Homo sapiens: one gene and its partner. Each later gene encodes a partner of the first gene's protein in a complex. Each region holds a gene or a part of one and is shown on either strand. Other genes may lie near its edges.

What was found. The genes of interacting proteins can lie anywhere in the genome.
Region 2: PIGF (region 1) and PIGG share a complex: the UniProt entries of both Homo sapiens proteins name them as parts of the ethanolamine phosphate transferase 2 complex.

The regions. Positions count from the first base shown.
Region 1 is NC_000002.12:46,582,442-46,586,192, forward strand, and holds part of PIGF (GPI ethanolamine phosphate transferase, stabilizing subunit), read right to left. Parts: intron 2,248-3,751; exon of another isoform or gene 1-2,247.
Region 2 is NC_000004.12:496,988-500,738, reverse strand, and holds the start of PIGG (GPI ethanolamine phosphate transferase 2, catalytic subunit), read right to left. Parts: upstream 1,530-3,751; 5' UTR 1,404-1,529; coding exon 1,250-1,403; exon of another isoform or gene 692-1,249; intron 344-691; coding exon 138-343; intron 1-137.

The DNA of each region.
Region 1 (3,751 bases):
CTTCCTTGTTTGGTCTGCTGTGGATCTGCCTTATTGCATATGCCATGCATCAGATAATGGATGCATCAGATAATGGTGTTAGACAAAGCTTCATTGTGAACAACCTAATGCATTTTAGAGAAACAATCTCATCACATTTTTTCTAGCCTTTCCTACATTTAAACTTGCTGTTGCCCAAATTATAATTTTTTAAATGTCTTTGGTGGGCTTCTGTTAATTCACATGACTTGAGCTTATAGCTATGTCTACTGCACAGATTGGGTAATGGAACACTAAACTTTTATACTTGAAAATGACAGCCTTAAATGCTCATATCAGTCACAAATCTAGGATGTACTGTCTTGTTGTATGTGAGCTTTGTAGAGATTTTTAAAAATATAAGCATCACCTTCCCATTGAAGAGTGGAGAGAGTCTACTGGATGACTGGCCAGGAACTTTCTCTCTGAATCGGACATTTGGATGTCTTCTTTCTTCCAAGAAATGGTGGTTCACATTAAAGTATCATGGCCTTATGTATGCTCAAATGGAATCTTATGTAACTTTCTTATTTAATTTTGGTCTGCTTATTTTTAGATAAAATTGAAAGGAATTGTATAAATCAATTAACATATTAGCTGAGTTGTCCAACACATGGTATAAACGAATTACAACAGTAAACTATTACACATTTCCAACTTGCCTTTGGGGATTTATGAGGATTTTTTTTGGTGGGGGGAGGGGGCTCCAATTCATATCTCTGAAACCCTTCACACTTGGTTTACTAATTCAAAGTTAGAAGTCTAGAATTTGCCCTGCCCTAACAGAAACAGATTAGGAATTTGTCTACACAAACTGGTGTCACCTGTTTCTTGACTGGGATTTGGTTTCCTCATTATAAATATGGGAGGTAGAACAGAGATCTCCAACGTCTCTCCCATTTATCACAGTAATTTTCTTATTCACAGTAATCATTGTTGGATGTTACCTTTTCAGCTTCACATTCTCAAGATGGTAAAAATCATGTATATAGATTATCAGAACTCTAAGCAAAGATGACTGTCACATCTGAAGCTGAGGTGCCTTAGGTACTCTACTGACCTTGATGGGTTTGGAGTTCCCCATTGCTTATCAAGAGCTTTTTAATTGCTTTGGTTCTTTAGTTTTTCTTTTTGCAAAAATCCTTCCTGTCACTTTAACTAAAAACCAAAGATTTGTTTTCTATTGATAAGCAGACTAGAGAAAAACTGCCTTATTTTCAGAAGCATGTCTTCATTCAAAGCTTAGGCTTCAATAGAAATTCAGACTAATCACTGAAATGACTATTTCAAACTAGTGAAATATCTGGGAAATAAACTGCTTCAAAAATATTTTACTGACATGAATTTTGCTAGTGAATACAAATACACTGCCTCAAATAAGGCCATGTATGAATGAACTTACAAGATATTTGAGTTAATCAGTGTTTGCATATAGAGAATTAGTTCTAAAGTTCTTAAAAATAAATTTAGGGGCTCCCTGAAATTTTATTTAATACTTTGCTAACTTACACTCTTGTTTTATCTCCACAGGTACATTTTAGGTTAGCTCATGGTGAATTCTATTTACAATAAGTGGAGCTTGGATTAATGGGTTTTGTTATGAATTATCTTAGTGACTTTAGACACTGTTTCCATTTGATTTTTAACTATTTAAAATACCAAATTAAATACCAGTTTGTTGGTTGTTACTTTTAAATGATTGTTACTTTAACAGTGTCCCTTCTTAACACATGGGGTTACAAATAAAATACTATGCATAGTTTACTATCTACGTAAAGCACTGAACTTTTTACCTTAGTAGTTTTTATTTATTACCCTATGTAAACATTTAGGATAATACTCTTTCCTCTATTTATGCTGAGAGTCTACTAATCATTGGCAAAGTATGAGTCCCTATACTCTGTTAAAAAAAGCTCACTGTTAAAGTATAGGGAGAATAGTAATCCCTCATGAATCCCAGCTAGATTCCAATTTGGGTTACTAAATTGTATTTTAATCATTTTGTAATTTCAGTATGGCTCTTTGTTCTCAAACACATACATACCACCACGCACATTCTTTTAAACAGCTGCCACACCTCACCTCCAACAGAATGCCAAAAATGAAATGTTAAAAAATTTTGTCTAATGAAGGGTTACGGCTTGGAACACTTGGTTATTCATGTTATGTAAATCAAGAAGTGCATGCCATCAGCAAATTAAAATGTGGACTGGCTTTGAAGACTGTTAATGATGGGTCAGGCTTTGTACTTACAAGAGTACCTCCTTGGCTTTCCTGAAATAAGCATTTCTTAATCGTAACCCTGTCATTTTTTTAAAAGAGAATTTCTTTAAGGGCCGTTTTCATGATTTTTGAAGATCAAAATAGATTATCAAAATAGGGAACAGCAAAAGGAGGGAGGCTGCCCACTAAGAACTATTCCTCAAGCAAGTTTCCTACTGATTTTCTTATAATTATTCTAAAAATTTTTAAACTACACTATGGCAACAGAATTCATTTGTAAATCCTAGCTTAATCAGGTATTTTCATAATTAGATCCTAAGGTTTTCCTTTAAAACTATTTCCTTATCTCACATACAGACATGTTTCTATTCAACGTTCTTCATGCCACAAATAGGATTTTTTAAAAAAGTGATATCTATTAAATACATAATTCAGCTGCACTGCTATAAAGATTTCTCCAAATTATGGTAATCTGAGATGGCTTTATATAATTATTTTGTTTAAAGAAAATAGGAAACTTAGAACAAAGACATTCATGTAAAGGAAGTCATTCACAAGTGTTTGCCACCAAAATGACAAGGGCCCAAGCACTGGAGGCCAGCCTGGGCAAGATAGTGAGAGTTTTTTATAAATTTACATTTTTTTAGCCAGTAAATAGAAGAAACAACCTATGGTGTATAATCAAATATATTACAACTCAAGTGGGTAAAATTATTAAAATTACCAGGAAGAAGAAAAATCTAATTAAAAAATAAGTGGTACATCAGATGTTAAGTGACCTTAGCCAGCTCATTTTAACATCTGAGCCTCAGTTTCCCCTACAGAACAGGGACAGAAGTACCTACTATACTTAAAATGCAGGGCTGAAGTAATCTCTTAAAATTTGTCATGAAAGCTATAAAGTACCACGTACCAGTATTCTGTATATTACATGTTTTAACTTGAAAAAATTAAACTTACACAAACAGTATTTCTTTGGTCACTGACACTACTATGTAATAAGTAGAACCGGCAGTTTAGAACGAATAGTTCATGAGTAATATACTGTGTGGTAGGAAGTGGTAGGAACTATTCTTTACCCTTGCAAAGCAATCATCTTTTTTTTTTTTGAGACGGACTCTCGCTCTGTCGCCCAGGCTGGAGTGCAGTGGCACAATCTCGGCTCACTGCAAGCTCCGCCTCCCAGGTTCACGCTATTCTCCTGCCTCAGCCTCCCGAGTAGCTGGGACTACAGGTGCCTGCCACCACGTCCAGCTAATTTTTTTGTATTTTTAGTAGAGACAGGGTTTCAATGTGTTAGCCAGGATGGTCTCGATCTCCTGACCTCGTGATCCGTCTGCCTCAGCCTCCCAAAGTGCTGGGATTACAGGCGTGAGCCACCGCGCCCAGCCATAAAGCAATCATCTTTAATACATGCTGTTCTTCATGTGAAATGTCTGTTACAAGAGCAAATTCAGGAGCTGTACAACATACTGGCATTACGTTAACCATCTGTATCCTTACCTCAGAA
Region 2 (3,751 bases), on another chromosome or scaffold:
TCTATTGCCCCAGCCAACTGACAGCACAAAATTTCCACTTTCTTAAAATTGCAACTCCAAGCGAAAGACTACAGAGACCCCCTCTAAATCTTCAAAACAGCCAAACCATGATTCATAAAACATTAAGGCAAACTTACCTTGATTCGAGGCATAGTAACTGTAGGTGGCTTTGCTTCAGCCACAAAACTGTGAGATGCTCCTTTTTCCACAAGGTAAGTTGTGTAGGGCATAAATTTCACACCCTTTGACCCAAACACAAAATCATCTCTCAAGGCATCTATCAGAACAATAACAACTTTACTGAAGAGAGGTGGTGGCAGCGTGGTCCAGTTAGAACTGGCTCCTAAGTGTTTGAAAGAAAAAAAAGGAAATTGAACTCTAAACTTTCCTTAGCATCAAGCACCTTCACAATCTAGCTTCTACCTACTTCTCCAGCACATACCCTGCGATATCTACATAACCCAACCCAAAAGGAGGCGACTTGTACTTGGTAGGTAGTGCTGGGGGGAAAGGACGGGGGTTAACAGGAGTAATCTTAGGGACCCACAGTAGCAAGCAGTGAATTATCCTCAGTATGGTGAAGAGTACTGGGGTAGGAGAATCCCTACGTAAGGGTCCTGGAATGGGACATTTAGGGAGCTTGACCTAAAACGCAGAGCTGCAGCTACGGGATGGCTGGGCGTTTACATACTGCGTTTACATGGTCAGCGGCTGGCGATGTGTGCAAGTGGTCCAGAACCAGGGCGCCTTTACTTGCTGTATATGGCTGGGTAGGTGAAGCCTAGGAAGAGGCCTAACGCAGAGAGGCCTTAGCCCCTAGGCAGGGAAAACATCTTGGAGGAATATAAGAGACCAAAACGCGAGGGGATCGGCAGGGGTCTTATCTGTTGTGTGCTAGGGGGCAAAAAGGGCGCCTATAACGGGGAGTGACCCAAAGGCTGCTCAGGAAAGGGGCGGGAGCTCTGGACGAGTAGAAGTGGAGAGGCTGGATCCCAGGTATGGACACAGCTTACTTTGTGGTGATCAGGAAGGAAGGTCGAAGTGGGGCCAGTAGAGGTGGTTGCCACAAAGTTGTAAGAATACAGAAAAGAGACGCTGGAGCGGTTAAAAAAAATTTCTGAGGTGGGGACCATAATGGAAGAGACCACCGGGGAGCGCCGAGAAGAAATCCGAGCAGCGAGGCTCAGAAAAAAGGTCTTCTAGGGGATGTGGGGTCAGGGGAGCGGAGACGCCGGGGAGGGGTCCGTACCAGCCGAGGGTTCGGGCGCTGGGGGCTCCGCTCCGTGTTCCGCTCTGGCAGAGGAACGAACGGGAGCCGGGAAGAATCCCCGAAGGAAGACCGCGATCCCTAGCACCTCGATCGCTACGCAACAGGTAGCGAAAGTCCCGGAGCCCAGCCGCATCGTGGACACGCTAGGCTGGATGCGGAACCGACCCCACCTGGAGCCTCGCCCTGCTGCAGCCGCGCTTCCGGCTCCAGGTAGCCGCCTCTAAGCAATAACGCCAGGCCTTATCGTCGCAGCGACAGTGGCGTCACGTCCGCCGGCGCGCCACAGCAGCGCGTCACTTCCGCCAGCCCGCCACAGCGGGGCGTCACCTCGGACATACGAACAGCGGGCGGTGTTCCCGGCTCCGTGGGGCCGTCTTCCCGGCGAGTCCGCGACGGTCGCCGCCCACGGCGAGGTACGAGGTTTTAAAAAGTTTTTAATTTGGAAGGCAGGGTGCAGTGGCTCACGCCTTTAATCCCAGTACTTTGGGAGGCCGAGGCGGGCGGATCACGAGGTCAGGAGATCGAGACTATCCTGGCCAACATGGTGAAACCCCGTCTCAACTAAAAATACAAAAAATTAGCGGGGCGTGATGGCGGGTGCCTGTCGTCCCAGCTACTCGGGAGGCCGAGGCAGGAGAATCGCTTGAACCTGGGAGGCGGAGGTTGCAGTGAGCCGAGATCGCGCCACTGCACTTCTGCCTGGCAACAGAGCGAGACTGCGTCTCAAAAAAAAAAAAAAAAAGAAAATTCAACCCAATACCTCAGACAACTGGTAAATATCTTAATGATTAACTTCGTTTTAAAGATGCCACATGAGTGAGATCATGAGGTATTTGTCTTTCTGTGTCTTATTTTGCTTACATGATATCCTCAGGTTTATCCGTGTTGTGGCAAATGATAGGGTTTCATTCTTTTATTAGAGCTGAATAGTACTCCATTGTGTATATATACCACATTTTCTTTTTTCTGAAAGGAAAATCTTGGGGCCCCAAAATTACTAAACTAAGGGAAAAGACAAGCTCGGAACTGCTCAGGACAAACCTGCCTCCCATTCTATTCAAAGTCATTCCTCTGCTCACTGAGATAAATGCATATTGATAGCCTCCTTTGGAGAGGCTTATCAGAAACCCAGAAACTGCAACCATTTGTCTGTCACCTACCTGTGACCTGGAAGCCCCCTCCCTGTTCCAAGTTGCCCCCGCCTTTCTGGACAGAACCAATGTCCTTCTTTTTTTTTTTTTTTTTTTTTTTTTCTTTTTCTTTTCAGATGAAATCTCACTCTGTCGCCCAGGCTGGAATGCAGTGGCGTGATCTCAGATCACTGCAACCTCTGCCTCCCGGGTTCAAGCAATTCTCCTGCCTCAGCCTCCTGAGTAGCTGGGATTACAGGTGCGTGCCACCACGCACGGCTAATTTTTGTATTTTTAGTTGAGACGGGGTTTCACCATGTTGGTCAGGCTGTTCTTGAACTCCTGACCTCGTGATCCGCCCGCCTCGGCCTCCCAGAGTGCTGGGATTTACAGGCATGAGCCACCGCGCCCGGCCTGTTTTTTTTTTGTTGGTTTGTTTTTGAGACGGAGTCTCGCTCTGTCGCCCAGCCTGGAGTGCAGTGGCACCATCTCCGCTCACTGCAAGCTCCGCCTCCCGGGTTCACGCCATTTTCCTACCGCAGCCTCCCGTGTAGCTGGGACTACAGGCGCCCGCCGCCACGCCCGTCAAATTTTTTTTTTTTTTTTGTATTTTTTAGTAGTGACGGGTTTCACCATGTTAGCCAGGATGGTCTCAATCTCCTGACCTCGTGATCCGCCCGCCTCTGTCTCCCAAAGAGCTGGGATTACAGGCGTGAGACACCGCGCCCTGTCCGGCCTGTTATTATACATATGATTGATATCTCGTGACTCCCTAAAATGAATACAACCAAGCTGTGCCCCGACCACCTTGGACCCACGTCGTCAGGATCTCCGGAGGCTGTGTCATGGGCGTCCTTAACTTTGGGAAATAAGCCTCCTGAAATGATTAAGACTTGTCATTTTTCTCGATTGACATTGATAAGCACTGAGAGATCCTCAGTGAAGGTAACCCGGCCTGCAGCAGTTCGCCTATTGATCCTCGGTATTGGCTTGGCACCTTATTGCCCAAACTGGTAGGATGATTGCTGAAATCTGGGACCTTGTTCCTCCAGGGATCCCTGATCTTCCAACGTTTTTCGGTGGGGGGTCTGAGGTTTATTTGCTGTTAAAAAACTCCTTTTTTGGGAGTTCCCACTCGCTTCATCAAGGAAGGCAAGCCTGCCTGCTTCTGCATCGACAGATAGCCGTCTTCAGCTTGAGCCCCATCACTAGGTAAGAAAATTGATTTGGAATTTTGTCTTGCAAATTCTTTTTAAATGACTAAAGATAACATTAACAACCAGCTGGTGTTTATTTCTGCTTACACTTAGAGCGTTCAGAAGTCATAGGCTGGGCGCGGTGGCTCACGCCT